7 linked regions of the Homo sapiens genome follow. The protein of the gene in region 1 interacts with the protein of each later gene in a pairwise test. Each region holds a gene or a part of one and is shown in the gene's direction. Other genes may lie near its edges.

Region 1 (4,318 bases):
ATATTTAAATAGTCACTTTCCTGTCCTGAAATACTTTAAACATTTCCTTAAAGGGGCCCTCTGGGGAATTAATAGATCTATTTCGGCTGTAGTTACTCTTACATCTTGAATAAGAGGCACCTTTTGGGTCCAACCAGATCTTTTGCTGTACTAACCATACATCTTACATCTTGGAACTGTTTTGGGTTTGGTTTGGTTTTTTGTGAGACAAGAGTCTCGCTCTGTCACCCAGGCTGGAGTGCAGTGGCGCTAACCCAGCTCACTGAAGTCTTGAACTCCTGGGCTCAAGCAATCCTTTCACCTTAAGGATCCTTAAAAATACCTACTGCTGGCCCCCACACCCATTCTGTTTTAGCAGCCTGGCTAGCAGGGTTTTCAGAAGCTCCACAGGTGGCAGGATTTTTTTTCTTTTTTCTTTTTTTGAGATGGAGTCTCTCTCGCCCAGGCTGGAGTGCAGTGGTGGGATCTCGGCTCACTGCAACCTCTGCCTCCCAGGTTCAAGCAATTCTCCTGCCTCAGCCTCCCGAGTAGCTGGGATTACAGGTGCATGCCACCACGCCCGGGCAATTTTTGTATTTTTAGTAGAGATGGGGTTTCGCCATGTTGACCAGTCTGGTCTTGAACTCCTGACCTCAAGTGATCCATCCGCCTCGGCCTCCCAAAGTGCTGGGATTACAGGCATGAGCCACCGTGCCTGGCCATTTTTTTTTTCTTGTTATAAGAGACAGGATCTTGCTCTGTTCCCCAGGCTGGTGTGCAGTGGTGTAGTCATAGCTCACTGCAGCCTCCAACCCCTGGGCTGAAGCGATCCTTCTGCCTCAGCCTCCTGAGTAGCTGGGATTACAGACACATGCCACCATGCCAGGGAAGTTTTTTATTTTTTGTAGAGACAGGGTCTCACTATGTTGCCCAGGCTGGTCTTGAACTCCCAGGCTCAAGCCGTCTTCATGCCTTGGCCTCCCAAAGTGCTGGGATTCCAGTCATGAGCTGCCACGCCCAGCTGAGGTTATTTTCTAACTTCTGGAAAGTTCGAGGTATGTAAGGAGGTGGATGGCGCCATCGTTGTTCACAGGGTGATGTGGCGGAATTCAATAATGAGTTGGTGTTTTAGGGGAGTTGCTGTCATAGTGGCTGAGAGGGGACAGGCCTGGAGGTAGGGCGGCTGGTGCAGAGCCTGACCTCAGACCTGGGGGCACCAGCCAAGGCCTGACCAGCTTCGAGGCAGTGGAGTGGAGGGGGAGGTTTGGCTTGAAACATTCAGAGGCATGAGCCGTCAGGCGGGGGGTTGTGAGGGGGGATTGGGGGTAGACTGAGGCCTGCTGGAGTGCAGCCAGTCACAACTGAGGAGCAGCCTGGGGCTTGGCGTGTGTGAATTCATTTCGTCCTTAAATCACTGAGGTGGAGGCTTTTGTTCCCATTTTCATTAGAGGAAACTGAGGCTCGGAGAATTTAAAAATTCTCTGCCAGCCCTTGGCAGAGCTGAGACACAGCCCCGGGCCTTCTTGCCTATGACGGTTCAGTGCTGCTGAGTCTAGGGGGAGGTTGGGAGGGGGTGATGGCTGTGGAGTGGCCGTTGGAGCTGTTCCGGGGCAGTGGGATTTGGCTGTGGGCCTCAGAAGAGCAGTCTTGGGTGGAATGGGGTGCCCCTGACCCCTCGTGGGAGCGTGTGTGCCACAGAGACCGTGGGCAGGACTGAAGAGAAAATGAAGGAGCGGCCAGAGAGGTGGGGGCAGGAGGGAGAGGAGCTGGAGTGGGGCAGGGGAGACAGAATGAGCAAGACACACTGGCCAGAAAGTCCCTGCCCACTGAAGTCACCGTGCGGCGCCGTAGGGAAATCACAGTGTACCGTGTGTGCATGTGCGGCCGTGGTGGCATTGGAGACAGGTTGTGGGTAAACAGACGGGGCCCCCACACGGTTCCTCATGGCCCAGCTCCTTCCAGTTCTGGGGCTCTCGCAAGCCTTCGTGGCCAGGCCTGACAGTGAGCGACCTCTGAGGCCATGACACAGATCTAAGTGCTCTGGGTGTGGAGTTAGCACCTGCCCCCTTCCTCTGCTCTTGAGGCTGAAGGTCCTGTCCAGGCTGTGTCCCAAATTGTCCATCCTGTTGTCTGTCCCCGTTGCTCTCAGAGCAATCCTGGAGCTAAAGCAGGTATTTTAACATCCATTTTACTTGTGGGGAAATAGATTCGGGAAGCTGGTTCAGGCCTAAGGAAATAGGAGAGCCTGGAGGCTGTGTAGACTCCTGCCTCCCCCAATTCAAGGCCCAGTGTTGGTACCTACTGGGGGAGCATTGTCTAGGGGAGCAGGGAATGAGAGGAGCCTGGCCAGCACCCCGGAGCCAGAGCTGGAGAGCAGTGTCCTGTCACCCTGGTGTGCTTGTGGGTTGAGGAATTATACCATGCCCGGCTGCGGAGACGAGCGTTTGCGCACAGGCTTTTTGCAGAGAGGTTTATAACCAGGAGGTCATGCTTTGGAAGGACTGAGTGCTGGAGGCACTGCTTCCAGGTGACAGTGCCTCCAGGTGACAGCTCCCCTGGCTGTGGCATAGCCCAGTCCCTCTATCGGGTGGGGGCAGGGACTGTGAGGCTGGAGCCAGGGTCTCCACCCCTCACCTGGTCACAGCAGCGGTCCATCCACAGCTCACACTGCTGCCTGGGGCAGGGATGGGTGTCAGCAGCCTGCCCAGGACTGCTCAGCTGGTGAGGGCTGGCACTGGGCTCGAACCCAGGCTGGGGAGGTCAGAGCGCACAGAGGAGAGGCTTGGATCTCAGCCCTGGCCCTGGGTGTCAGAAGGAGGGGTGTCTGCAAATTGGAAGTGAGAATCAGTGAGTGGGGGCTTCACTCTTCAGGGCTCTGACAGCGGGAATCCTCCCAGATGGGTGGAGAAAAAGGCTGTGGCCCTCCGAGTTATTCAGGTGTTTTGGGGGCTGTCAGGAGTTTGGGGGGCTGTCCCTAGCCCTCCTCCTCTCCAGGCTTCTGGGTTGAAACTTGTGTGTTTGTGACTTGAATTCAGGGGAGTGGGTCCTGCATTGAAAAGGACACGTGTGTCACTCATGCGGCCTCCTGGGGGCTGGTGGTGGCCCAAGGATGTCTTCATTCCTCAGCAAACACAGAGGGCTGCAGGCTTCCCAGGGATCAGGCACTGCCCCAGCGGGGTGCTGGAGATGCAGCTACGGGTGGGACCTCGTGGAACTCGTGCTGAGGGAAGACAGTCCATAGAAACAGAGGGGAGTGCAAAGCAGGAGTCCAGCAGGGTGGGGCGGGAGGCTTGGAGGGACAGGCCCCGTCAGGCAGTGTTCAGGGAAGGCCTGCCCGCTGAGGCAGTGTTGCCGGAGAACCCTGGGTAGGGAGACGTGTCCTGGCCTTTGGTCCTCCCAGACGACGTGGGCAGCGCAGAGGCACCAGATTCTCTTGAGGAAAACTGCACCTGTCCTTGTCCTCTCTCATCTCTCTGCCACCCGCGCCCGCTTGTCCTTCTCTCCACCCGACATTCAGTTCCCACAGGAACCGCATTTGAGCCCAGGAACAAGCTTGGGATGTTGGGGGCATTGAGCTCCCGGGCTCAAACCTCTGTCCTCTGATGCACGCTTTGGTGTCTCCTGCTGAGGGCCACTGCAACTCACCCTGCCCACCTCGGCTCTGCTGCCCAGGCTGGTGGCTGGTCTCCGCTTCTGTCCCCACAGCCAGGCACATGTGCCGGGTTGAGAAGCTTTGTTCTTCTAGTGGGGGCGCAGTGGCTGGCCTGGCCGCCCTTCACCCCTGAGTCACGCCATCTGTTCCTGGATGGGGAGTGGGGTCCAGGAGGACTGGGATTTCTACCAACTCCCCCGGCAGCCGGCTGTGCCCAGCTCCTGAGCCAGGTTCTGCAGACCCTGGAAGCCACCTTAAGAGATGGCTAAGAAGCTCTAGGCTTCCCCTTTCTCTGGAGAGGAGGTGCTTTTGACCTAACTGACCGATGACAGGGAGGACCGGGGAGCTGGCACTATGGAAAGTGGGGTAGGCCGAGGGTGTGGCAGGAACGGGTTCGTCCAGCAGGACACGCTGTGTCCCAGGAAGCGCTGGGTCATCAGGGAGCACGAAGGAAGCAGTGTCAGAGGAGAGTCCCCCAGGGCAAGTGTGGGGTTCCCTGCAGGCATCCGGCAGTGGTGAGCTCTGGAAAGAGTGGCCGGTCTGTCCCAGCATAGCTGCTGGCCACAGGCCCACCCTTGCCCGAGGGCGCCAGAGCCACAGCCTGGGGCCTTGCTGCAGCCCAGCCCTCACAGTATGGGGATGCTGCAGTGTGGGAGCAGGCCCAGGGGCCACGTTCCTGCCCGCCTA
Region 2 (4,318 bases), on another chromosome or scaffold:
TACCTAGGCATTTAGACAGTAAAAATGGAGCTGTCTTTTGATACTGGTCCCTCCCCAGAGTGCATCCTCTTCCCTTGGTTAGTAAACTTAAATTATTATACTGAAATTTTATATCTCAAATTGGAGTTTAAAATGCTCTCATAATTTGGAATGTTCAAAATATTCTGAAGTAAGTTTCTGCAAAAGAGTCTAAATGATATATAAATTGGGGGAACAGCACTTATCAAGCATTTTATTTATTGTGCCACAAATAGCCTGTACTTGCACAATAAGAAAATTACCTGTCCAAAGCAGAAGTGTCCAGTTTTAGGAAAATCTTTTTGTTACATACCATTAAACATTCTCTTCTGTAAAGTTTAGTGGAAACTTGTTATTTTTCAGATAGAAACCATGTGAGTTTTAGAACTTTATAATTTTGAAATCTGTTTATATGAATTCTTATAATTTTCAAAACTGATATGGAAAACATAGGATCTAGGTTTTCCCCCTATTTTTGCATTTCTTTCCTATATATCCTTAAAGAAATAAGACACTATTTTTTGCCATCATCTTTTAGAGTGAATAAAAAAGTGTTAAATACCTCTTATTGGGCCTTGTGAACATTGGGTAGAGCCATTAATTATTTTGTTATGAGTTGCTTGCTAATTTTTTTCTGAGATAAATATTTTCATTTGGTCCTGATTTTTTTTTTTTTTGAGATGGAGTTTTGCTCTTGTTGCCCAGGCTGGAGTGCAACGGAATGATCTCGGCTCACCACAAACTTTGCCTCCAGGGTTCAAGAGATTCTCCTGCCTCAGCCTCCTGAGTAGCTGGGATTACAGGCATACGCCACCATGCCTGGCTAATTTTGTATTTTTAGTAGAGACGGGGTTTCTTCGTGTTGGTCAGGCTGGTCTCGAACTCCCGACCTCAGGTGATCCGCCTGTCTCGGCCTCCCAAAGTGCTGGGATTACCGGCGTGAGCCACGGGGCCCAGCTGGTCCTGATTTCTAAGGTGTTAATATTGCTGAATGAGGGGAGAACATTCATATTTTGAACGTTCTTAAGAGGATCCTGGATTTTAAAATATTTTAAAATTTTGATACAGAAATAAGAATCAAACTCCACAATGACAACCTATTTGGAATTCATTCAACAAAATGAAGAACGAGATGGAGTCCGATTTAGTTGGAATGTTTGGCCATCAAGTCGACTGGAAGCTACAAGAATGGTTGTTCCTGTGGCAGCCCTGTTTACACCACTGAAAGAGAGACCTGACTTACCACCTATTCAATATGAACCTGTTCTGTGTAGTAGGACCACTTGCCGTGCAGTTTTGAATCCTTTATGGTAAGTAAAATATATAGAAAAACTAATGTGGCAATGTGATTTTAAAATGTCGGGGTTTTTCTGCATATTTTTATAAAAATCCCTTTGTTTTTGTTCATACTAATTTTTTCAAATTAGGACAGTCAAAACAATCCAGAGAGCTGTAAAATTTTAGGATCATTCTAGTTGTACTGAGTTGGTAATATAAAGAGACCAAATGTAAAAGTGGCACTATAAAAACTGTTAGATTCCATCAGTGTCTTCTGAATAGTGGTGCTGGATGTGTATCAACCCATCTTGCATCATTAGATAAGTCATAATTGGCCGGGCGTGGTGGCTCATGCCTGTAATCCCAGCACTTTGGGAGGCCGAGGTGGTGGATCACCTGAAGTCAGGAGTTCGAGACCAGCCTGACGAACATGGTGGAACCCCGTCTCTACTAAAAATACAAAACTTAGCTGGGGTGTGGTGGCATGTGCCTGTAGTCCCAGCTACTCGGGAGGCTGAGACAGGAGAATTGCTTGAACCTGAGAGATGGAGGTTGCAGTGAGCTGAGATCGTGCCTCTGTACTCCAACTCTGGGTGACAGAGCGAGACTCCGCCTCAAAAAAAAAAAAAAAGTTGTGATTGAGTGACATGATGTTCCAAAAATGTTGTGATTTCTGTTGCTGAAGCCAAAATCTCAGGAATCATCTCTTACTTCTCTTTCCATTCCCTCTCCCCCCAGCCAATCCACTAGCAAATCTGGGTGATCTACCTCTAGAACATTATAGATTCTGTCTCTTACAGCCTCTTATTCCATCTCTGGTAGTATACCCTGCTTCAAGATACCACAGTCTTTTTCCTGGGCAATTTCAATATCCTCCTACCTGCTCTCCCTGTTTCTATTCTTGTCTTTCAGCAGTCTGTTCTCTACCCAGAAGCTAGAGTTTTATGAATGAAAATCAGATGATGAACATCTTCCAGTAGTAGCTTCTTATTCTTGGAATGAGAAATACAAACTCCTTATCAAGATCTATAAAGCCTTGTATGATCTAGCCTCTGTATATATTTCTGCCTTCATCTTGTGTTATCCATTTTCCTTATTCTCATCTACATAATACCTTAACCCTGTTACCCTCTTTCTGATTCTTGAACATACCAAACTTACTCCTACCTTGACAATGGTATAGTAGCTGTGCATTCTGCCCGGATTCTTCTGTCTCCATATTTTCGTATGATTGCTTCCTTTTCATTCTGATCATACTTTAGTTGTCTATTTAAGAAGGCTGTTTTTTAAAGCAGCCCTCTTAAACACATTCTCACATTCTGCTTTGTTTTCTTTAATCTCTGTTATTACAATGTAAAAGTATTTTTGGCTGGGTGCAGTAGCTCACGCCTGTAATCCCAGTGCTTTGGGAGGCCAAGGTGGGAGGATTGCCTGGGCAGCAAAGCAAGACTCCATTTCTACAGGAGGGGAAAAAAAAAAAAAAAAAATATATATATATATATATATATATATATATATATATATATATATATGTGTGTGTGTGTGTGTGTGTGTGTATATATATATGTATATGTGTATATATGCATATATATGTGTATATGTGTATATATGCATATATATGTATATGTGTATATATGCATATATATGTGTATATGTGTATATATGCATATATATGTATATGTGTATATATGCATATATATATATGTATGTGTATATATGCATATATATATATGTATATGTATATGCTGGGTGTGGTGGTATGTGTCTGTAGTCCTAGCTACTTGGGAGGCTGAAGATGGGAGAAACACTTGAGCCAGGAGTTCAATGCTGCAGGGAGCTATGATTCTACCATTGCACTGCAGCATGGGCAATAGAACGAGACCCTGTCTCAAAAAAAACACCAAAAGTATTTTCTTGTTTGTGCATCTGCTTGTCTTTTGTCTGTTTTTTCTAGAATGTAAACTCCATGAGAGCAGTTCTCTTTTTCTTGTATCACCAGCGCCTAAAATAGTGGTTGGTACTTATTAGGCATTCAGTAAATATATTTTTGACCTGAATAAATGTTTTCTAGGTCTGAGTGTAGATGTTACTGAAGTCACTTGAAGAAAAAAATAGGATTATTTTAATTTTATTGATATTTGCTGTATATATGTGTGCATATATATATTTTTGAGATGGTTTCACTCTGTCACTTAGATTGGAGGGCAGTGTTGTGATTGTGGCTCACTGTATCTTTGACCACCTGGGCTCAGATGATCCTCTCACCTAAGCCTCCTAAGTAACTGGGAGTGCAGGCATGTGCCACCACGCCTGGATGATTCTTTGTATTTTTTGTGAAGACTGGGTTTCACCATATTGCCCAAGCTGGTCTTGAACTCCTGGACTCAAGCCATCTGCCGCCTCAGGCCTCCCAAAGTGCTGAGATTACAGGCGTGACCTACTGCACCCAGCCAATATTTACTATATGTTAAAAGTTATATTCACCATTTAGGTAAACTTGTATATGTTAAAAGTGTGAATTAGATATTGGCAGTATCTAAAACTACATGGCTTTTAAAAGTTACTTTGACTATCAATTTGAATATGTTCATGTTTTAGGAAGAAATTAATTTTATTGAAATTAGGATTTTTGTAAAATTGAACTGAAATATGAACTGATATGTCTTTTCTTTTTTTTTAAAACAGTCAAGTGGATTATCGAGCAAAACTTTGGGCTTGCAACTTTTGTTACCAAAGGAATCAGGTAAGAAAACATCCATTGCATGCCGGGCGCAGTGGCTCATGCCTGTAATCCCAGCACTTTGGGAGGCCGAGGCGGGTGGATCACGAGGTCAGGAGATTGAGACCATCCTGGCTAACACAGTGAAACCCCGTCTCTACTAAAAATACAAAAAAAAAATTAGCTGGGCGTGGTGGCAGGCGCCTGTAGTCCCAGCTACTCGTGAGGCTGAGGCAGGAGAATGGCATGAACCCGGGAGGTGGAGCTTGCAGTGAGCCGAGATTGCACCACTCTACTCCAGCC
Region 3 (4,318 bases), on another chromosome or scaffold:
TGGTGGCATGTGCCTGTAGACCCAGCTACTTGGGATGCTGAGGTAGGAGGATTGCTTGAGCCCAGAAGATTGAGGCTGCAGTGGGCTATGATTGTGCCACTGCCCTCCAGCCTGGGCGACAGTGTAAGACCTTGTCTCAAAAAATAAAAAAATTGCCATGTTGCTCTGAGATGAGAACCAGGAAGTTCACTAGGTCCTCTTGCTAGCTAAGTGACTCCCTCTCTCACTGCAGCCTTGCAGCAAGATTAAAATCTGAACCTCGGAAGAAAGACAAATTGCAGCATGTTGTGGACATTTTGGATTGTCAGCAAATAGTTACAACTTCAGATATCATATTTGGGAGAACATGCTAAATGTCTGCGGTACATGATCTTGCTTTTCATCTGATTATCTCAGGAACCCTGCAGGTGAATAGTACCATTCCCCAATGTTTTGAGATAAGAGCACTGAAGTTCAGAGAGATTAAATAATTTGCCCTAGCTTACACAGCTGATAAGCGGAAGAACGAGGATTCAAACTGATGCCTGTCTAAATCCAAACCATGCTTTCTCCTGTATCGTCAGCCATGTGAACTTGAGTTAGTCCCATCACCTCTCTGAGCATCACTCTCCTCATCTTAGTGTGACAAGAATCATAATTATCTCAAAGAGGTGTTGTGAGGAGCAAGTAGAATGCCAGAAAGTGTTTTGTAAACTATGAATTGCAATACAGATGGAAGGTGTTGTTACCATTATTATTATTTTTAAAAACAGGGCCTGGTTCTGTCTCCCAGGCTGGAGTGCAGTGGAGCCATCATGGCTCACTGCAGCCTCCATCTCCTGGGCCCAAGCAATCCTCCAACCTCAGCCTCCCACGTAGCTGGGACTACAGGTGTGCACCACTACACCTGGCTTTTTGTTTTTTGTTTTTTTTGTAGAGACAGGGTCTCACTATGTTGTCCAGGCTGGTCTCAAACTCCTGGACTCAAGGGATCCTCCCAAAGTGCTGGGATTACAGGTGCGAGCCACTGCACCCAGCTGATTATTATTATTATTATGCTACATACTTCTTTACATAAATAGCTTTCTTTTTATGGAGTAACTCCCAGGCACTTAATATCTGTGGGATCTGGTCCACACCACTCTCCATGACAGTGTCTGCCAGGCATTTTTAGCAGGATTCTATCAGCTGTAGGTCACTTGAAGATTTCAAGAAGCAAAGACATCAAAGACTGGGTGAATGAATGATAAGGAACCATAAAGACTCCTGTGAAGTTCCTGAGGTGGCCCCGAAGATTTCCACAATCATGGCCAGAGCAAAATCCTACCCAACCCTTGTTTGGATAATCTATACTCCCATCCTGGGAAGCAGTTAAAGGGATGCTCTCCATTTCATAGACAGAAAAGAGTCTTCTGGAGGGGAAATGTTAGCCCAAGGTCACAAGAGCTATTGACAACTAAATGGGCCCAAGTCACCAGCCTCTCACACAGGCCAGGATCCTCTCTTCCTGGGGACTCAAACTCCATATCCATTTGTGTAATAAGCTGAGAGTTCTTCTTTTAAATATGTTTTACATGGGGAGCAAACACATCCAGGAGGGACAGAACATTCTCTTTTTGGTTTCTGTGGCCTCTGTAATAGAGAGGCTGGTATTAGGTGCAAACTTATTTTAGAAGGCAGAATAGGAATGAAAGTTGGGGAGGGACATGGGCACCCTGGGCAGGAGGAGCTGTGTATTTCCTTCTGTGAATAGCTATGACACACACATACACAAACACATACACACACAGAGAGAGAGAGAGAGAGAGAGAGAGAGAGAGAGAGAGAAAAAACTAGAAAGCCTGGGGAAATTTGGCAAGAGAATACAGAAAGGCTGCCATGATAATCCTTTTCCCCTGCAGAGCACGGTCAGTGAATCCACTTTGATTGCCCTGCTGGCAGCAAGGAAGAACAAAATCCTGGAAATGAAAACGTCTGAGCCCGATGCTGATGAGTCCTGCCTAAATGCCCGACTCGTGGCCTATGCCTCTGACCAGGTGAGTTGCCCGACGCAGGACAGCCCTTCGGGTTGGTGCTTGGCTTCTGGAATCTTGGTCCTTGAGCAATTTTTTTCTAGACGTGAGTACGCTGGGGTTCTGAGCAGCTCAGACATGGGAGCTTGTCTCCAGCAACTGTAGGGAAGACAAGCTTCCAATGATCATATTTGGTTCCCGAGTCTTAGGCTTCAGCAGTTTCTGGGGGGTGATCATTCCAGGATGACTCTTTGCTGACAGGTTTCTGTGGCCCTTCTAGGCTCACTCCTCTGTGGAAAAGGCTGGTTTGATTTCCCTTGTGAAGATGAAATTTCTGCCTGTGGATGACAACTTCTCACTCCGAGGGGAAGCTCTTCAGAAGGCCATCGAGGAAGACAAGCAGCGGGGCTTGGTGCCCGTCTTTGTAAGTCAGGATATATGCCTAAGCTTAGAATGATAGAACTTGGATGTGAGGAAGGAATTTTGGCAGAATTCAGGTAAGTAACATGCTGCACACAAAAGCAGAAAGGTCCTCCCATACAGTATTTTACACATCATGAGGTGCTATCCATAGGTGTGTTATGGAATAAATTTTGTGGGTCATAACCAGCATTAAAAAGAAATATAGTATAAAATATTAGAGTGCACACATATAGCCAGAGTATGTATTGTTTTATGAAACTTTTTTTTCAAATACACACGTATACATGTACTAGATTGTTATATAAAATGTGTTTCTTACGAGCCATGGTAAAACACAGTCTGAAATATACACTGTTCTGGTGGGATGGATGGGAGTAGATCACGTCTGTGGTGAAATCTTTCTCAGGCCAAATGTGTCACACGAGCCCACCCTCCTGTGTTAACTTGCCTTAATTTTCCCCTAGGTCTGTGCAACACTAGGGACCACTGGGGTCTGTGCATTTGACTGCCTGTCAGAGCTGGGCCCCATCTGTAAGTATCTTCCCTCTGTGGCTAGGAAGACAAGGAATACATTTTTAAATGTCTCCTAAAGCAAGGACCTGAAACCAGCTCTATGGGATTATTCTTGTTCCTCTTTGGTCAATGCAGAGACATGGGAAGAACCACCAAAGGTCATGAGGGTCTCTTCCAGGGATCCCTGGACATTGCCTTTCCCAGTGGTGTGACAAGAGTTAGAGGTGGCCTACCTTGCCTCCTGTCCTAGGAGGCGACAGTAGGAGAGCCTTCGGTTTTCTCATCCTCTTACTTGTATGTTGAACTTTACTTAATGCAGGCTATATCCAAAATACAGTGTGAATTAGGCTAGAATAGAAATGCTTTCTATTCTACCTTCAGAAAAGGAAAAGGGTAGGGTAGGGGAAATCATGGGAGAGATTAAAGGCAGAGAGGAAACCCAGATGGGACTGTTTAATCCCCAAGCAAGAAACCACTAGGAAAGAGAGATACCTTCCCTCTAACTTTTGTATTCGGTGCACTGACATTGCTCTCTGTGCTGGTGGGAAATTGATTTCTGTGCCAGGATGTTCTAGGCTGAGGCCAAGAGGGTGCTGGCCCTTTACCCAGTGGAAGAAAAAGGCAAGGGTGAGGCTTTGTAGACTTTCCCATTCGGAGGTAATGATGCCTCCTTCAGCCCCACTTCTTCAAACTGACTCCACCTGCTCCCATCTCCACACCCCTCCGTTTCTCATTTAGCCAAAGCACATCATCCTTGCAGCCCACCACTCAGCTTGGCCAGGTGCGAGACATCTTTCCCCACTTCATACCTCCCCTCCGGCCAGGTGATGTTTGCCTCCTCAGGTGCCCGTGAGGGGCTGTGGCTCCACATCGATGCTGCTTATGCAGGCACTGCCTTCCTGTGCCCCGAGTTCCGGGGGTTTCTGAAGGGGATTGAGTATGCCGACTCCTTCACCTTTAATCCTTCCAAGTGGATGATGGTGCATTTTGACTGTACTGGGTTCTGGTGAGTGTAGCAGCCCAGCTCCGAGCACGCAGGAACGCCTTGCCTCCTCTGGAGAGACCTCAGCCACTAATGCCCATTTGGAAACCCACAGGGTCAAGGACAAGTACAAGCTGCAGCAGACCTTCAGTGTGAATCCCATCTACCTCAGGCATGCCAACTCAGGCGTGGCCACCGACTTCATGGTGAGTGGCCAGGGACGGGCAGCCTGGTGGGCTCGGGTGGCCAGTGGGAACTGTAGGCGTCTGACCCCCCAAAATCTGTACGGTGGCTCCCTTCAGAAGGCAGCACACTATGAGCTCATCTCATAATACTGCCAATGCATACCTTGGTTTCTAATTGTGCCTAAGTATATAGAATGAAACCCAGAAAATGGTTAAAAACCCTA
Region 4 (4,752 bases), on another chromosome or scaffold:
TCCTGCCCGTTCCTCTCACTGGAGCAGCCGCAGGTTCCCCTCCCCTCGCCCTGAGACCACCACTCTGATCTGCACTGGGCTTCCCACTGTCTGAGGACTTGGGCACCAGAGCAGGGTTCAGGGGTGAGCCCCCCACCCAGCTGGGGCCCTCGGGGCCTGTAAGGAGAGCTCACTCCAAGTGGGCGGGCGGAACTATGCACTGAGGGTTTCTAGTGGTTGTGGTTGTTCAGATTGTTTTTTCTTGAGGTTTGCTTGATTAGAAGGAGTTGGGTTTGCTACACAGTGCAGGCTGTTATTTCGCATTTGTTTATGTGACTTTGTAAGTTTTCCCACAGTTTCAAATTTGTGCCTTCCATGGCAGGGGTCCCACTCTCCCCTTTCTCCAGGAGGCTTGTAATCCAGCACCTGGTTTCAGGGACACCAGGCTGCACCCTAAAGGCGGGCAGCCCCAGGGGACGGGGCCAGCAGGGAGAGGTCTGCTCACCCCAGCACCCCCAGGCCTCCCAGTGCTCAGGGTCCCCTGTCCCTGGCTGACTCTCCAGGTTGTAAAGGGGACTAGTGACTGGCAGCGTCCATCATCCTGGCCCAAGGGAGCCCACCGTGGCCCCCAGAGGAGACGGGTACCAAGGTCATGCAGGGCCAAGGGTTGGAGCTGGAAGGGCCATCTGGTCTGAAGGAGAGCACCAGCGTGCACCGTGGGTGGGGGCGGTCTCAGCGCTGGGAGGCCTTTCTGGGGCCTGGAGCAGACTGAGGGGAGGACCCTGCCCTGAGGTGGCTCACGTGGGGGGAGGCCAGAGGTGGGGCGGAGGGGCCACTCACCCAACAGTCCCAACCCTTCACCACAGGCCCGGGAGGCTCCTAGACGTGAGACACGATCACGTGGTATCAGGGGCCCATGTCCTCGGACCTTCTTGTCCCTCCAAGGGTGCGGTCACCACCCCTCCCCAGGCCTGACCGGTGAGGGGCTGGGCCTCTGCTCCCACACTGCCCCTCCCCAGCAGGCCAGCAACGATGGGGGAGGCCAAGGGGCCCGGCAGGAGCCAGAGGGGGCGGTCCCCAGACCGTAGACAGGCCCAGGCCTCCGTGATGTCACCGCGGGTGCTAAGGAGGGGGAGGGGGTAGGGCTGTTTTTCTGGAGAGAGACTTAGAGCCGAGTGGGACAAAGCCTGGGGCTGGGCGGGGGCCATGGCGCTGCCATCCCGAATCCTGCTTTGGAAACTTGTGCTTCTGCAGAGTGAGTGTGGGGCCCTGGGAGGCGGGTGGGGGGTGGCACGTGGGGCTGTGCGAGTCCGTTTCGGACAAAACCGCCCATCTGAGCTTGGGCCAGGAGGAGTGGGAAGGTCCCACCAGGGAAGAGGACGGGTCTGGGGGCGCTCGGGAGAGCCGCTTGCCAGAGGCTGTGACGTCTTCAGTTAGACTTTGGCCAGCCTCCCCTCCTAGGGAGTTGAAGCCCAGAGGGCCAAGAAGGGCTGGGGGCCCAGGCACGGCGGCGTCTCCCTCGGGGCCCCTCCTGCAGCCCCTCTTGCTGGGGCTCTGTTTAGGGAGTGGGTCAGTGATTGAAGGGGACCTGAGAACTGTGGGGTCTGTTCCAGCCCCCGCTCCCAGGCCTGGGCTGGCTGCTGACCGGGCACATTCCTCTGGGAAGCTCCCAGGCTCTCGGCCACATCTCTGGGGCAGTTTTCACATAGGATCTATGTGAGGGAGAGCAGCCCCCAGTGATCTAGAGACACAGGATAGAAACAGCTTTTATCACCCACGGGCCCTGGGGTGCACAGACTGCTGGGAGGCCAGGGAAAGTGGAGAGAGACAGGGACCCCCAGGCCAACCCTTTATTGGGATCAGGGCGTTCTGCATACAGGTTTCCCTCAGGGAATTTTTTTGGAGGCAGTTTCTCTCTCGCCAAGGAGGCTGCAGTGCAGTGGCGTGATCTCGGCTCACTGCAACCTCCACCTCCCGGGTTCAAGTCATTTTCTTGCCTCGGCCTCCCAAGTAGCTGGGACTATAGGCGCCCACTACCACCCCGTCCGGCTAATTTTTTGTATTTTTAGTACAGATGGGGTTTTTCATATTGGCCAGGCTGGTCTTGAATTCCTGACCTCAGGTGATCCACCTGCCTTGGCCTCCCAAAGTGCTGGGATTACAGGCGTGAGCCACCATGCCTGGTGGGGGAGTTTTAACTGGTGGGTTTAAGGCAAGCGGCACGAGCCCCGTGGGGCCACGCTGACTGTGGGGGGACTCCGTGGTGCAGCTGCACAGTCCATGTGGGGCGTGGGGTCTGTGGGGACACAGGGGGTGGTCACCAGGGGACAGTGCGTAGGGCGGGCGTCTGGGTGGATCAGCTCGAGGACGGGGGATGTGAATTGGAAACTGTCCCGGGTGGCAGCCCCGCTTCCGGTCAGAGAAAGTCCAGCCTAGATTCAGAGTGGATGCCGAGGCGGCCTACGACAATGAGAGTCCCTCAAGCAGCAACGCGGGCCTGTGGGGCGGCAGCCGGGGTCACGACCCACATTCAGCCTTCAGGCCTCTGCCCTGCGGAAGCACCTCAGGGGCTGCGCTGAGCCTTAGGTGTGGTGTGGGGTCCCCAGCGTCTGAGGGTCCAAGGACCCTCGGGGGCTGGGGCACAGCCCTGGAGGGAGCGTGGGGGAACCCACAGATCCAGCCTCCTTGGTGCTCTGGGTGACTTGGGTGCAGCCAGGTGGAGTGGCCCCGGTGACAAGCACACACCCCAGAACCGGCTGGCTTGGAGCCTGGCCCTGGCCCACGCCCATGCCCTGGCTTCCCCACTCAAGGGCAGGTGCCATCCAAAGCCCAGCACGGTGGCAGGGAGGGCTATGTAGGTCTGTGTGAGAGGCGTCCTCCCTGCACTGAAGTGGGTGTCACAGCATCCACTTTGGGACTACAGGAGGGACTCTGGGGGCCAAGTGGGGGGTCTCGGGGCTGGGTGGGGCTGTGGGTGGCCTCTCCAGCTCACTCCTCTCCTTCCAGGCTCTGCTGTTCTCCTGCACTCAGGTTAGTGACCCCAGCCCCAGCTGCCCACCCCCACTCCCCCTCAGCCCCTCCTATCTTGCCAGGCCCAGCCCCCGGGGGTCCTCAGGCCCTGCCCCTCCCCCACTGATTCCCCCTTGCTCATCAGGACCCTTGGGCACCTCCCCTTGCCAATAACTCCCCCTCCCCCAATGACTCCTCTTCCCCTACCAGGGCCCTTGGGGGCCTGGCCCTCCCCCACAGACTCCCGCACACCCACCAGGGCCCTCGGGGGCCCACCCCTCCCCCACAGATGCCCCCACTGACTCCCCTTCCCCAACCAGGGCCTTCGGGGTCTGCCCCTCCCCTACTGAGTCCCCTTCCCCACCAGGGCCCTCGGGGCCCACCACTCCCCCATGGACTCCCCATCCCCCACTAGGGTCCTTGGGCCCCATGTCTCCCCGACTGACTTGCCCTCCCCCATGGACTCCCCCTCCCCTGCCAGGGCCCTCGGGGGTCCACCACTCCCCCAATGATTCCCCTTCCCCCACATGGGCCCTAGGGGGCATGCCCCTCCCCCATGGAATCTCCCCCACCACGAGGGGCCTCAGGGGCCCACACCCCCCCAAAGATGCCCCCAACCCCGCCAGAGTCCTTGGGGCACACCCCTCCCCCAGTTACTCCTCCTCCTCCACCAGGGTCCTCAGAGCCCGCCCCTCCCCCACTGATTCACCCTCCCCCATCAGGACCATCAGGGTCCGCCCCTCCCCCAGTGACTCCCCCTCCCCTATCCAGGCCCTCGGGGGTCTGCCCCACCCCACGGACTTCCCCTCCACCACCAGGGCCCTCTGGTCCTGCCCGTCCCTTACAGACATCCCTCCCCCACCAGGGCCCTGCCCCTCCCCCACTGACTCCCCCAACCAGGGCCCTAGGGGGCCCACCCCTTCCCCCACCGACTCCCCTCCCCCACCAGGGTCCTCGGTACCCGCCGCTGCTGGCAGCTCCGTGGTGTCCGAGTCCGCGGTGAGCTGGGAGGCGGGCGCCCGGGCGGTGCTGCGCTGCCAGAGCCCGCGCATGGTGTGGACCCAGGACCGGCTGCACGACCGCCAGCGCGTGCTCCACTGGGACCTGCGCGGCCCCGGGGGTGGCCCCGCGCGGCGCCTGCTGGACTTGTACTCGGCGGGCGAGCAGCGCGTGTACGAGGCGCGGGACCGCGGCCGCCTGGAGCTCTCGGCCTCGGCCTTCGACGACGGCAACTTCTCGCTGCTCATCCGCGGTGCGGGGACCGGGGACCGGGGCCGCGGGGTCGGGGCAGGGGTCCGGGGCCGCGGGGTCGGGGGCACCGCAAGGCTCACGCGCGGCTTCCTCCTGGGTGCGCAGCGGTGGAGGAGACGGACGCGGGGCTGTACACCTGCAACCTGCACCATCACTACTGCCACCTCTACGAGAGCCTGGCCGTCCGCCTGGAGGTCACCGACGGCCGTGAGTGCTTCCCCCCCGCCCCCCAGCTCCCGCCCCTCGACCCTCGACCGCCGCCCCGGCCCGCGCGCCGCTGACCGCGCCCCCTCCGCAGCCCCGGCCACCCCCGCCTACTGGGACGGCGAGAAGGAGGTGCTGGCGGTGGCGCGCGGCGCACCCGCGCTTCTGACCTGCGTGAACCGCGGGCACGTGTGGACCGACCGGCACGTGGAGGAGGCTCAACAGGTGGTGCACTGGGACCGGCAGCCGCCCGGGGTCCCGCACGACCGCGCGGACCGCCTGCTGGACCTCTACGCGTCGGGCGAGCGC
Region 5 (4,423 bases), on another chromosome or scaffold:
GGCCTGGTCACCCTCCTGAACAGCCCTGGGAGACCAGTCAAATGCCGGAGTCCCAAGTTAAAGGTAGCAGAAGGCCCAAGTTCCACGCACGGCCTGAAGACTACGCAGTGTCACAGCCCAACAGAGACATACAGGAGAAAAGGGAAGCCTCCCTCGAGGAGAGCCCAGTTGCCCTTGGGGAGTCAGCCAGTGTCCCCCAAGTTTCAGAGACAGTCCCTGCCAGCCAACCTCTGTCCAAGAAAACCAGCTCCCAGTCAAACTCCTCCTCTGAGGGGTCGATGTGGGCCACCGTGCCGTCCTCCCCTACTCTGGACAGGGACACAGCCAGTGAGGTGGATGACCTGGAGCCTGACAGCGTGTCCCTGGCCCTGGAAATGGGGGGCTCGGCGGCTCCTGCTGCCCCCAAGCTCAAGATCTTCATGGCTCAGTATAACTACAACCCATTTGAGGGGCCCAATGATCACCCTGAGGGTGAGCTGCCCCTCACAGCTGGGGACTACATATATATCTTCGGGGACATGGATGAGGATGGCTTCTATGAGGGGGAGCTTGAGGATGGCCGGCGGGGGCTGGTGCCCTCCAACTTCGTGGAGCAGATTCCGGACAGCTACATCCCAGGCTGCCTGCCTGCCAAATCCCCTGATCTTGGCCCCAGTCAACTCCCAGCGGGGCAGGATGAAGCTCTGGAGGAAGACAGCTTATTATCTGGGAAAGCCCAGGGAGTGGTGGACAGAGGGCTGTGCCAGATGGTCAGGGTGGGCTCCAAGACAGAAGTAGCAACAGAGATCCTGGATACCAAGACGGAAGCCTGCCAGCTGGGCTTGCTGCAGAGCATGGGGAAGCAGGGCCTCTCCAGACCCCTTCTGGGGACCAAAGGGGTGCTCCGTATGGCTCCCATGCAGCTACACCTGCAGAATGTCACAGCCACATCAGCCAACATCACCTGGGTCTACAGCAGCCACCGCCACCCCCATGTGGTATATCTTGATGACCGAGAGCATGCCCTGACCCCAGCGGGCGTGAGCTGCTACACCTTCCAGGGCCTGTGCCCCGGCACGCACTACCGGGCGCGGGTGGAGGTGCGGCTGCCACGGGACTTGCTGCAGGTGTATTGGGGAACTATGTCCTCCACCGTCACCTTCGACACACTCTTGGCAGGACCTCCCTACCCACCGCTGGATGTGCTGGTGGAGCGCCATGCCTCGCCAGGTGTCCTGGTGGTCAGCTGGCTCCCTGTGACCATTGACTCAGCTGGGTCCTCCAATGGAGTCCAGGTCACCGGTTATGCTGTGTATGCAGATGGGCTTAAGGTTTGTGAGGTCGCCGATGCCACTGCTGGGAGCACCCTATTGGAATTCTCCCAGCTACAGGTGCCCCTCACGTGGCAGAAGGTCTCAGTGAGAACCATGTCACTCTGTGGTGAGTCCCTGGATTCAGTGCCTGCTCAGATCCCCGAGGACTTCTTCATGTGTCACCGATGGCCAGAGACTCCACCCTTTAGCTACACTTGTGGCGACCCATCCACCTACAGAGTCACCTTCCCCGTCTGCCCCCAGAAGCTGTCACTGGCTCCTCCGAGTGCCAAGGCCAGCCCCCACAACCCTGGAAGCTGCGGGGAGCCCCAGGCCAAGTTCCTAGAAGCATTCTTTGAAGAACCCCCAAGGAGGCAATCCCCAGTGTCCAACCTGGGCTCAGAAGGAGAATGTCCGAGTTCAGGGGCTGGCAGCCAAGCCCAGGAGCTTGCAGAGGCCTGGGAGGGCTGTAGAAAGGACCTGCTCTTTCAGAAGAGTCCCCAGAACCACAGGCCACCTTCAGTCAGTGACCAGCCTGGGGAGAAGGAAAATTGCTCCCAGCACATGGGCACCAGCAAAAGCCCTGCTCCAGGATTCATCCATCTACGCACCGAGTGTGGGCCCAGGAAAGAACCGTGTCAGGAAAAGGCTGCCCTTGAGAGGGTACTTCGGCAAAAGCAAGATGCCCAAGGGTTCACACCTCCCCAGCTGGGCGCCAGCCAACAGTATGCATCTGACTTCCATAACGTTTTGAAGGAGGAGCAGGAGGCACTGTGCTTGGATCTGTGGGGCACAGAGAGGCGAGAGGAGAGGAGGGAGCCTGAGCCCCACAGCAGGCAAGGACAAGCTCTGGGGGTGAAGAGAGGGTGCCAGCTCCATGAGCCCAGCTCGGCACTGTGTCCAGCTCCATCCGCCAAAGTCATCAAGATGCCCAGGGGTGGCCCCCAACAGCTGGGGACGGGGGCCAACACTCCAGCCAGGGTCTTTGTGGCCCTCTCTGATTACAACCCCCTGGTGATGTCTGCCAACCTCAAGGCTGCAGAGGAGGAGCTGGTCTTCCAGAAAAGGCAGTTGCTAAGAGTGTGGGGCTCTCAGGACACCCATGATTTCTACCTCAGCGAGTGCAACAGGCAAGTGGGCAATATCCCCGGGCGCCTAGTGGCTGAGATGGAGGTGGGGACAGAGCAGACTGATAGGAGGTGGCGTTCTCCGGCCCAAGGGAACCTGCCTTCTGTGGCCCACCTCGAGGACTTTCAGGGGCTCACCATCCCCCAGGGTTCCTCCCTGGTGCTCCAGGGGAACTCCAAGAGACTCCCACTGTGGACTCCAAAGATCATGATAGCAGCTCTGGACTATGATCCTGGGGATGGGCAAATGGGGGGCCAGGGGAAGGGCAGGCTGGCGCTGAGGGCAGGAGACGTGGTCATGGTTTACGGGCCCATGGATGACCAAGGATTCTATTATGGAGAGTTGGGCGGCCACAGGGGCCTGGTTCCTGCCCACCTGCTGGATCACATGTCCCTCCATGGACACTGAGCAAGCATCCTTGCCCAGGTAGTGGCCTCTGGCTGCTCACACCCTGCCAGAGGAGAAGCAAGCGTTCAGACCCTCACACCAGCACCCCTCCTCACCACCATAAGTAGCATGTGCTCCAAGTGCCACTGTGTTAAACTGATGGTAGTCCTTAAGCGTCCCCTAGGCTCTGAAAGTAGCAGGACTTAAGCCTGAGTTATTTGCAAAAGCAAACACAACAAGCCAACCCCTGAGAGTCTGAGAAGCCATTTCAAAGTTGCTGATAACTATGGCAGGTATACGGAGAAGCGCCTTTTTCTGTGGCCAATGTGTGTTTTCTCTGGGAGGTTAAGGTTATCTGTCCATTGCCTTGTACGAAAGTCTCAAGAAAAGTCTACATCTTAAAAAAGAAAAAGCAATCTGAGTGTTATTTTTGGGATGTGAGGGTGATCTGGCTGCGACATGTGTCACCCCATTGATCATCAGGGTTGATTCGGCTGATCTGGCTGACTAGGCGGGTATCCCCTTCCTCCCTCACCACTCCATGTGCGTCCCTCCAGAAGCTGTGTGCTCAATGGAAGAGGATGACCATCCCCGATAGAGGACGATCGGTCTTCAGTCAAGAGTATAAGAGTAGCTGCGCTCCCCTGCTAGAACCTCCAAACGAGCTCTCAGAATGTTATTTTTCTGTCTTATGTCCAACCCCTCATTAAAATGTTCATAGAAAAAACATATTTTAGAAGTTGAAGCACAACCAAGGAAACATGAGCCTGGCTTTCCTCCCTCTCACTTCTGCGCATTGGGTCCGCAAGGGCTACAGAAATGTTTTCCTGGCTGAGGAAGGGAGGGTGCACCCTTCTGCTTTTTTTTTCCTGGCTGCAGTCTATTCCCAGAACACATTCCATCACATGGTTCCCAGAACTCAGATTGTGCGGTGGCCACGTCATCATTGGCTGGGGCTCACAGTCACAGCAGCAGAGGCCTCCCTAAACCTCCCTCTCCTCTAGCCCCACCCGCTGTCCCCTGCTCCTCATGCCCCCATGCTGTGTCCCCTGGCCTCACTTCCGTTGCCATGTTTTCATAATCCTCTCAGGCTCTGGGCAGCAGCGCTGCCCACAGTAGGACCAGATCATGTAAGGAAAATACTGCAGGCTCATCTTGGGGCTGCACTGGCGACCTGAGAACACCTTATCCTACTGTACCTGCTGCACCTCATCTGACACCAGCTTCTCTGCTTTGCCCAAGGTCCCTAGGCCCTGAATGCTTACTTTTTAAGGTCAGCCTGGCTCAGGATATGCTAGTTTGGCTGCAGAGGGTCCTACTAAGAGCCAGGACTGAGGAGCAAGGCCCAAAAAACTCCTCTGGGCCACATCTTCCCCGAGGGCATCCCCGCAGGGAGGCCGTGTGCTGCTGAGCCCTTTGCTAGGAGTGGGTAGTCAGTGTCTCCCACATGACGATCTTGCTTCATTCAGATAGCTTTCGTAGCTCACTGCTTTTCTGAGTCACTTCCTGTGAGGGATCACCTTGGGATGGAATTTCTTTTCCTTTTTTTTTTTTATTTGGAGACAGAGTCTCGCACTGTCACCCAGGCTGGAGTGCAATGGCACAATCTCGGCTCA
Region 6 (4,318 bases), on another chromosome or scaffold:
CTTTAAATTTTAGGCAGCTTATAAAAGTTCATTGCAGTAAGATAAAACATTTTAAAATGCTAAAACCAAGGTTAAGGGAGTAGAGCTCTTATCCCATTAGATCATCATAGCAGCCTTATGAGCAAGGCAGGACAGGATTAGAGCCTTATTTTTCAGACCAGAAGCTGAGCCCAGCACTGCACTGACCACAGTCACATAGTAAGACAAGCAGAGCCCCAGCTGGGGTCCGGACCTTGTGTCCTTCAGCCAGTGCTGCTCTCTCCATATCCCACCTACCTCTCCAAATGCCTATGTGACCTCAGCCTCTTTCCCCCAGGGAGCCTACTACACACAGCCGGTGTATGCTGCCCAGCCTCATGTCATCCACCATACCACGGTCGTCCAGCCCAACAGCATTCCCTCTGCTATCTACCCAGCACCTGTTGCCGCCCCGAGGACCAACGGTGTGGCCATGGGCATGGTGGCAGGCACCACCATGGCAATGTCAGCAGGTGAGGGCAGCATCTGCATCAGTGTCCATCCCTTTCCTCTAGGAACTCAAAACGGAGCAGAGAACACAGTCATAGAATTGGCTGCAGCACAGCACAAGAGATCCTGTGCCAGGGGGCTTGGGAACCCAGAGGAAGGAGCCTCTAAATCTGTCTATGGGGATGAGGAAGATTTCACCAAGAAGGACGTATCGAGCTAGGCCTTAAAGGGTGAACACAGGCTAACTAGAGAAGTGAAAGAGGGAAGGGTGGTGCAGAAAGAACATGAACATGGCATGTTCACAGAATGGAGGAATGGAGCCAAGGCCCTTCGGAAATAGGGGCTTGGAGTTGGAAGGTGGCTGGATCGCTAGCAAGGATAAGATGGTGGAAAGTCCTGAATACCTTGTGGTACCTCTGTTGCACACAATGGGGGTCAAGCAGGGCAGGGATGTGGTTAGGTTTAAACATTCTCTGGCTGCAGAGTGGAGACAGGATTAGAAGGGGTGATCTGGAAGCAAGTAGGTCAGTGAGGAGGCTGTCAGTGTACTTTAGGGGAGAGAGATGATGCTAGCACTCCAGTAACAGCAGGGGCGCCAAAAAAGAAGACACAGGGGCAATGTTCTTTATTAGGCAGGAGCTTAAGGACCTGTGCAATAATTATAATAATTATGAGGGATGACAAAAGCAGAAGTCCCCAAGGACTGTTAGGTTTTTTTTTTTTTTTTTTGAGACAGGGTCTTGCTTTGTCACCCAGGCTGGAGTGCAGTGGCACGATCTTGGCCTACTGCAGTCTTGATCTGCTTGGGCTCAAGTGATCTTCCCACCTCAGCCTCCCAAGTAGCTGGGACCACAGGCATGCGCCACTACACCCAGCTAATTTTTGTGTTTTTTTGTGGAGGCAGGGTTTCACCATGTTGCACAGGCTGGTCTTGAACTCTTGGGCTCAAGGGATCCACCCACCTCAGACTCCCAAATACTGGGGTAACAGATATAAGCCATTATGCCTAGCCTAGAGACCCAACTTTTAAAGAACCAGCTAGGATACCATCTGAGGTAAGAAAGTACAAGGGGTAGAGTGAGCATTTGGATTTTATTCTGTCCCTAACGTAAGGGTATGGTTGAGGCCTCTTACTCCTCAGATCAAGTTGGCAAACTGTTGGATATCTACTCAGTGCCAGCCTTGTTCAGGTCCTGGGAACCCAATATCAATAGATCAGATCAGAACACTGTCCTTAAGGAACACCCAGGTTAGTGTGGGAAACACAGCCACAGACATCACAATTACTACTCAGTATGATTGTGCAATAAGAGAAGCATACAAAGAAAAGTAAAAGGAAGGCCGGGCGTGGTGCCTCATGCCTGTAATCCCAGCATTTTGGGAGGCCGAGGTGGGCGGATCACTTGAGGTCAGGAGTTCGAGACCAGCCTGGCCAACATGGTGAAACCCCATCTCTAGTAAAAATAAAAAATCAGCCGAGTGTGGTGATGGGCACCTGTAATCCCAGCTGCCCAGGAGGCTGACGCGGGAGAATCGCTTGAACTCAGGAGGCAGAGGCTGCAGTGAGCTGAGATCGCGCCATTGCACTCCAGCCTGGGCGACAGAGCGAGACTCCGTCTCAAAGAAAAAAGGAAAAGGAGGACTTAGAATAGTCATTGATTCTGTCCTCAAGCATCAGAAAAAATTCCCCTAAGGAGGTGAAGCCTGGTGAGGTGGAGAAGGGCAGAAAACAGGTCATCAGGAAGGCGAGGGAGATGGGGGATTTGGGCAGAGGGAGCAGCCATGTGAAAGACTGTAGCTTCATCCTCTTCATTCCTGTGTCTGGTGCAGCCTCGTCAGGTTACTCTTCTCTCTCTGGATGCTCAGGTACCCTGCTGACTACACCCCAGCACACGGCGATTGGGGCACACCCTGTCTCCATGCCAACATATAGGGCCCAAGGAACCCCTGCGTACAGCTACGTGCCCCCACACTGGTAAAGCCTGCAGCCCATCCAAGTGAGTGTGGCCAGGGTGAGAGAAGTGGGAGGGGGATACATACAGGAACTGCCTCAAAGTCCCTGGTTTGGGTCTGGAGCACAGGTGTCAGCTAGGGCAGGTAACAGCTGTCAAGTTACCAGTTGCTTTCCTGCTCCAAGGTCCATAATATCACTCTTAATAATAGCTATCACTTCTGTTGACTGCTTGTTGAAATCTAAATAATAACAGAAATAATAATAGCTATCCCTTTGCTTATGTTATCTCATAATCCTTATAGTTGCTCTGTGAAATAAGGATCATTAGCTCTATTTTACAGATAAATATGTAGTTAAATATCACTTAGCCAGTAAAAATTAAGCTAGGGCTTAAACTTCAGTTCTCTAGTACTAAATTCTGTGCCATTTACCTTATGGTCTTCGGACTTCTTTTAACTATGGGCCCCATTCTTCAAATGAACTCTTGCCCAGATCATATGTTAAGAGCTTTGGTTGGAGCTATTTGGAGGCTTTGGGCTGACCCAGACCTCTGGCTTCCTTGGTCCCCTCAGCAGCTCCTGAGGCAGTGACAGTGAACCATAGGGCTCCAGGGATGTCACTTTGAAATCCTCTGGCCCCCCACATCATCTGGCCTCCCCCATCTCCTCCAGGGCTCTTGGCACCAGAGCACAACAACTTCCACAGGCGGGAGGCAGGCAGCTTCACTAGGAAGGCACAGCGGGCTCCCGAGTTGAGGGGAGAAGCCTCCTGAATATCACTGACACTGTTTCTTTCCCCTTTCCCTCTGCAGATCTGGAGTCACACATTGTATGCAACTACTCAAGTCTTACACCGGTGCTGGAGCAGTTCCCTAGCAGCACCACCTCTATTTGCAAGAAGAGACAACGGAAGTGCAAGGGTCACTTTATGCATCTTTAATGGTTTTGATTTTTATTTTTGGTTTTTGTAAAAGCTGCTTTTTCTAATCTCCTGCCTCTCCCCAACTGTCCCCCTCTTAGCCCCTGCCCTTCCAGCTCTATCCCCTTCCTCCTACCTGACCAGGCCATGTCCTCTCTGCTCTTCCCTAAGTGTCCTGTCCCTGGGGATCCCAGTCTAGAGGCAAGCAGAGAGTAGGGTTTATTGCAGTGGTTCATCTGAAGGCTGGATTCCATTTGAAGAGCATAAACAGATGTGGTCCAGGGTAGGAACTCAGAGCTGTTGAGCAGGCTACATCTCTAGGGGAGTGTTCTGGTTGTTTTTTCTTAAGCAAGATTAGTTCAGGACATTCCCATGTCCCAGACACAAATGAAATGTCTCCTGAGAACCATTGCAACAGACCAAGAACAAAACCACCTGAGTATGTAGGCGTGTTATTAGCAGCTTAATACCCCAGGCTGAGAACCTGGGGAAAAAAGTCTTTAGAATTTGGGGGAGGGTGGGGGGAGGGAGGGCATTGTGGGGAAGGAGAGGGAAGAAGGGAGGAGCGGTGCTTGCCTCATGGCTTTGGTTTGAAAGGTCTCTGGCCAAAGCATCTGGCCCTGGACCTTCTGATTTGCACAGTGATGTTAACTGACCTGGCACTTCCTCAAAAGGTGATTTTGTCCTTAGACCTGCCAAGCGGCTGCAGGGTGGTAGGATCCCAGCATCCCGAGGCCTTGGAAGGCCGGATGCCCTGTGTCATCCAGACTTCAGCCTCTGAGCTGTCATGGACCCACTCTGATGAGGAGCTTCCTCCTGATTGGAGTGGGAACCTAGGGCATTTCTCTCCCTTTTCTTTTGCCCTTCCCAGTGCCAGGACTCACCTGTCTGACCATAGAGCTTGCAGGCAGGCCAAGCTCTTGGTTACCTGTGCCATTCATGGCCCAAGTGAAGGAACCACATTCCAGGTGGGTGCTG
Region 7 (4,318 bases), on another chromosome or scaffold:
CAGCTGGTGAATGGCAGGGACTCACCCAGGCCCCAGAGCCCAGCCTCCTCCTCACAGGCTCTTTTTGCCCTTTCTGCCTCCTTGGGCTCCAGGTTAAATGGGACCCAGCTTCTCCCTTCCCTACATCACCCCACAGAATTCTCCCATCACCCCGTGTCAGGGGAAAGCCCTTTTCCCCGGCAGAGGCCTTGGGATCGGACCCAGCTCCTGCTGCTCCCAAGGCCTGTCTTAAACCCCTTTGGGGCAAGGCATGGGCAGTGGAGGGGGGTGGTGTCCTGTCGAGTGGGCCGGGCCCATGTCACCCTCTGAGAGGCCACAGGAAGGAATTTGGACATTATTCGAGATCCGTAGGGAGCCGTGGAAGGGAGGTGATGGAGACACATTAGATTTGGGTTTAGAAAAATTGTTGTTGGCTGCAGTCCCGGAATGGACTGGCGGGGAAGAGGGGTGGTAATGAGACCGAAGGTGATCATGGTGATGAACTGGAGTATCGGTGGGGATGACATGAAAGACAGATTCCAGATATATTTAGGAGGAAGACTCAGTAGGACTTGGTTTCCCTCCCCTCCCCTCCCCTCCCCTCCCCTCCCCTCCCCTCCCCTCCCTTCTTTCCCCTCCCCTGCCCTCCCCTCCCCTTCCCTCCCCTTCCCTCCCCTTCCCTCCTCTTTTTTTTTTTGAAACAGAGTCTTACTCTGTCACCCAGGCTGGAGTACGGTGGCACGATCTTGGCTTACTGCAATCTCCACCTCCCGGGTTCAAGCAAATCTCCTGTCTCAGCCTCCCGAGTAGGGGATTACAGGCATCCGCCACCACTCCCAGCTAATTTTTGTATTTTTAGTAGAGACGGGGTTTCACCATATTGGTCAGGCTGGTCTCGAACTCCTGACCTCAGGTGATTCACTCACCTTGGCCTCCCAAAGTGCTGGGATTACAGGCATGAGCCGCTGTCCCTGGACTCATAGTTTTCATTACCTTGTAAATTTGGGATTATCTACTTTTTATTTTCTGACTTAAAAAAACCTGACCATTCTGAATGTTTGCCCGTATCATGAACTATGCTTTTAGAGCATGATTTTTTTTCATGGTGCATCATATGGACAGAACATATTTTATTTAATCTCCTGTCATTGGACAGTTAGCTTCCTCCTCCCATATTGAAAATACTGAGATGAACATCTTTGTACCACATCTTTGCATGAATGTCTTTGCACTAAATCTTTGCACTTATCTTTTCTTGAAGATAAGAACCCAGAACGGGGTTATGGAGTTAAAAGGCTGGGGATGTTTTGAAAGGCTTTTGATTAAAAATTGTTGAATTGCTCTCCAGAAAGGCTGTTCCAGTTTACATTTTCAGCAAAAGTAGATGAGAGAGTGCCTATTTCTCTGCATTCTTGCCAGCACTGGGTATTACTGTTTTCCTTACTTCTTGCCAATTTTATGGGGAGGAAAAGAGGTGGCTCACTGTGTCAACATTTATTTCTTTGAATACTATGAAATAGAATCCTAGTATCTTTCAGCTGGAGGAGACTCTTGGGGCCAAGTAGTTCAATGCCCTCATTTTACAAGTAGGCAAATTAAGCGCCAGAAAGGTGAAGCATCTTCCCCAAGGTCACACAGCAAATATGTGGCAGGAACTGCTTTGTTCCTGTCAGGGCACCTCCCACTGTGCCAAGGTGAGTTGGCTGTTGGGGTTCAGATAGGGATGTCTTGCCTTCTTTTTATCTATCTATCTATCTATCTATCTATCTATCTATCTATCTATCTATCTATCTATCGAGATGGAATCTCACTTCCGTCACCCAGGCTAGAGTGCAGTGGCGCGATCTCGGCTCACTATAATCGCCACCTCCCGGGTTCAAGCTGTTCTCCTGCCTCAGCCTCCTGAGTAGCTCGTATTAGAATGTGCACCACCACACCTGGCTAATTTTTGTATTTTTAGTGGAGATGGGGTCTTGCCATTTTGGCCAGGTTGGTCTCAAACTCCTAGCCTCAAGTGGTGCACCCACCTTGGCCTCCCAAAGTGCTGGGATTACAGGCGTGAGCCACCACGCCTGGCCTAGGGATGTCTTGACTTCTTCACTGAGGTCTTCTGCTGGGGTTCATCTTGCCCCAGATATCTCTAGCACTCTGGTAAGAAAAAAAGCCAATATAAATTAAAAAGCACATCATCATTATGGTCATAACAAGATGAATCAATTTTCACATTCTGTGTGTGATCTATTTTGCAGGGCAGAGAGTGTCAGAGATTACGTTGCGGCGTTTCTAGGTAACTTGAGATTGGGGTCATATTCTGACCAAGGGCAGAACGGCAGGTGCTGAGGACTTGAAGGTCAGTTCTGCTGTTTCCTGGCTGGGCAATCCTGGCCAGCTCCTTACGTCTCTGAGCTCTGAGGTCCCTTGCGCATGAGACAGGGATGTTTGCACAGGGATCTGCACGTAGTAGGTGCTCAGTAAATGCTCTCCCAGGAAGGAGGCTGCTGGACCGGCTGTATCAGGGACAGCCGTTCTTGGCCACTCCCCTGGGCAATCACAGAGTGAGCTGTCACAGGCTCTTGGCTGAATTGGGAGCGAGTGGCAAACATGGAGGGCCTCTGTGGTGGCCCGGCTGGGTTGGTGGCCGGATTGTTCTGTGTCTGGCTCCTGGCTTGGTGAGTTGGGGAGGGAGAAGGGTTGTGGCAGGCTGGCTTTTAGGCTCCTGTGCGCCCAGGGGCTCAGAGGATGGACAGCAGCCTGCCTGGGATTAAGTCCCAGGACCATCATGGCCTGGACAGTGGCTTTGGAGTCACTAGTTCCCTCTGGGACTCAGTTTCCCTTTCTGTACCATGTTCAAATTCCCAGATAGTGAGACCCAGTGGGGAAGGTACGTCAGGGCCCCAGGGACGGAGTGTGCTTGGGCTGTGGTGTTCAAGACCCAGGCCCTTGGATCTTCTCAGCCTCAGGCATGGTTCTTAGCCTCTCGATACCTTAGTTTTCTTATCTGGGGGTTGGGGATAAGGGACTTCTACTACACAGAGCCGTGTGCGGGGTTAGGAATAACAGACGTTGAACTTGGCGGCTCATCTCGGCCCTCCTTTTGCTCCTGGTGGTGGTGGAGGATCTGCGAGCTGCAGCACGGGACGGTCAGGGGCTGTCACTGCGGTGAGAATCTGGTATTAGGCATGTTCCGTGTGACCCAGGCCTGTCCTTGGTGTTCACGTGTGTTCCTCACCAATTCCACCCAGGAGCCCTGTGGGGGTCCCCTTTTTACAGATGAGGAAATGGAGGCTCAGAGTGGATGAGAGCTGGCTCATGGTCCCACGGCTGGAGAGTGGTGCCATTGGGGTCTGATCCCCGTCCCCTCTCAGCCTGGAGTCTGCACACTGAAGCCCTGGGCCGCGGTGAGGGGCCCCTGCTTGGTGGAGGTGCCAGGGAGCCGCCATGGAGGTGTGCAGGTGAGCGTGAGCGGGCCCGGGTGCCTGGTGTGGGTGTTGCAGGCAGGGCGGGTGCTGCGGGGCACGTGGGCAAGTCCCGATTCACGTGGGCACGCTCCGAGCGTGAGTGACGGGGTCATGGCGTGTGTCAGGAGTGGGTGAGCCGGGCACTCCTGTGCGCACGCGTGTGGTGGTGTGTGAGGGCAGCTCTGTACAGGTTGTAAATGTAGGTGTGCCTGGGGGTGGGGGACGCTGGGGAGGGAGGCACAGACAGGCCGGGAGCCGCGCCAAAGGCTGGGAGCTCAGCTGCCAGGTCTGGAACCAGGTGATAAGCTGCCACTCCCCAAGGCAGTAGGGGAGTATTGTGGTTGGGGGGAGATGACAGCAATGACGACCACCGTTTACCCAGTGGGCACTCGGGACCAGGAGTGCTGAGTGCTGCCCTCTCCCCAAAGCCCTGGGAGTAGGGACCCTTATACCCATTTTACAGATGAGGAAAGGGAGGCCCAGGCAAGTTCAGGGACACGCCCAAGTCCCCCCAGCCAGCCAATCGATGGCCAGTCGGGGTTCAGGCTTAGATCTTTATGTTGCCAGAGCCACGCCCTTCCCACCCGGCGCCTGCCTCCCACCGTCTCTGTGAGCCTCAAAACCTTGGAGTTCCCTGCCAAGGGGAGGGAGCGCCCAGTCCCTGGGAGCATCCAAGCCGCTGCTGGAGCATCAGACACTGGCCAGGCATCCCGGACTCCTGGGCTGGGTGTGAGGTTGGTGGCAGATAGGATCCTTCCCGCTGGTTCCAGAGGTTCTGCCTCCTGCAGGAGATTTGGGGCAGCCTCCGCCTTGCCTTCCTCCAGGAAGGAGGCAGAGTTGAGGCCTTGTGGAAAGGCGGCAGGAGGAGAGGCGCTGATAGG

Evidence for each region.
Region 2: the proteins of DTX2 (region 1) and SEC23A interact in binary tests that used the Homo sapiens proteins (3 or more experiments, as listed by UniProt).
Region 3: the proteins of DTX2 (region 1) and HDC interact in binary tests that used the Homo sapiens proteins (3 or more experiments, as listed by UniProt).
Region 4: the proteins of DTX2 (region 1) and MXRA8 interact in binary tests that used the Homo sapiens proteins (3 or more experiments, as listed by UniProt).
Region 5: the proteins of DTX2 (region 1) and RIMBP3 interact in binary tests that used the Homo sapiens proteins (3 or more experiments, as listed by UniProt).
Region 6: the proteins of DTX2 (region 1) and FAM168A interact in binary tests that used the Homo sapiens proteins (3 or more experiments, as listed by UniProt).
Region 7: the proteins of DTX2 (region 1) and NCS1 interact in binary tests that used the Homo sapiens proteins (3 or more experiments, as listed by UniProt).

What each region holds. Positions count from the first base shown.
Region 1 is NC_000007.14:76,492,525-76,496,842, forward strand, and holds part of DTX2 (probable E3 ubiquitin-protein ligase DTX2), read left to right. Parts: intron 1-4,318. UniProt on the Homo sapiens protein: Regulator of Notch signaling, a signaling pathway involved in cell-cell communications that regulates a broad spectrum of cell-fate determinations.
Region 2 is NC_000014.9:39,092,908-39,097,225, reverse strand, and holds part of SEC23A (protein transport protein Sec23A), read left to right. Parts: intron 1-1,086; 5' UTR 1,087-1,107; coding exon 1,108-1,328; intron 1,329-3,981; coding exon 3,982-4,039; intron 4,040-4,318.
Region 3 is NC_000015.10:50,252,227-50,256,544, reverse strand, and holds part of HDC (histidine decarboxylase), read left to right. Parts: intron 1-213; exon of another isoform or gene 214-353; coding exon of another isoform or gene 354-362; intron 363-1,880; coding exon 1,881-2,015; intron 2,016-2,271; coding exon 2,272-2,415; intron 2,416-2,878; coding exon 2,879-2,945; intron 2,946-3,665; coding exon of another isoform or gene 3,666-3,770; coding exon 3,771-3,933; intron 3,934-4,024; coding exon 4,025-4,115; intron 4,116-4,318. UniProt on the Homo sapiens protein: Catalyzes the biosynthesis of histamine from histidine.
Region 4 is NC_000001.11:1,354,938-1,359,689, reverse strand, and holds the start of MXRA8 (matrix remodeling-associated protein 8 isoform 2 precursor), read left to right. Parts: upstream 1-1,134; 5' UTR 1,135-1,185; coding exon 1,186-1,234; intron 1,235-2,985; coding exon 2,986-3,009; intron 3,010-3,937; coding exon 3,938-4,240; intron 4,241-4,344; coding exon 4,345-4,446; intron 4,447-4,537; coding exon 4,538-4,752.
Region 5 is NC_000022.11:18,604,920-18,609,342, reverse strand, and holds the end of RIMBP3 (RIMS-binding protein 3A), read left to right. Parts: coding exon 1-2,828; 3' UTR 2,829-3,528; downstream 3,529-4,423. UniProt on the Homo sapiens protein: Probable component of the manchette, a microtubule-based structure which plays a key role in sperm head morphogenesis during late stages of sperm development.
Region 6 is NC_000011.10:73,405,660-73,409,977, reverse strand, and holds part of FAM168A (protein FAM168A), read left to right. Parts: intron 1-316; coding exon 317-491; intron 492-2,334; coding exon 2,335-2,447; 3' UTR 2,448-2,465; intron 2,466-3,233; 3' UTR 3,234-4,318.
Region 7 is NC_000009.12:130,178,277-130,182,594, forward strand, and holds part of NCS1 (neuronal calcium sensor 1), read left to right. Parts: intron 1-4,318. UniProt on the Homo sapiens protein: Neuronal calcium sensor, regulator of G protein-coupled receptor phosphorylation in a calcium dependent manner. Directly regulates GRK1 (RHOK), but not GRK2 to GRK5. Can substitute for calmodulin. Stimulates PI4KB kinase activity.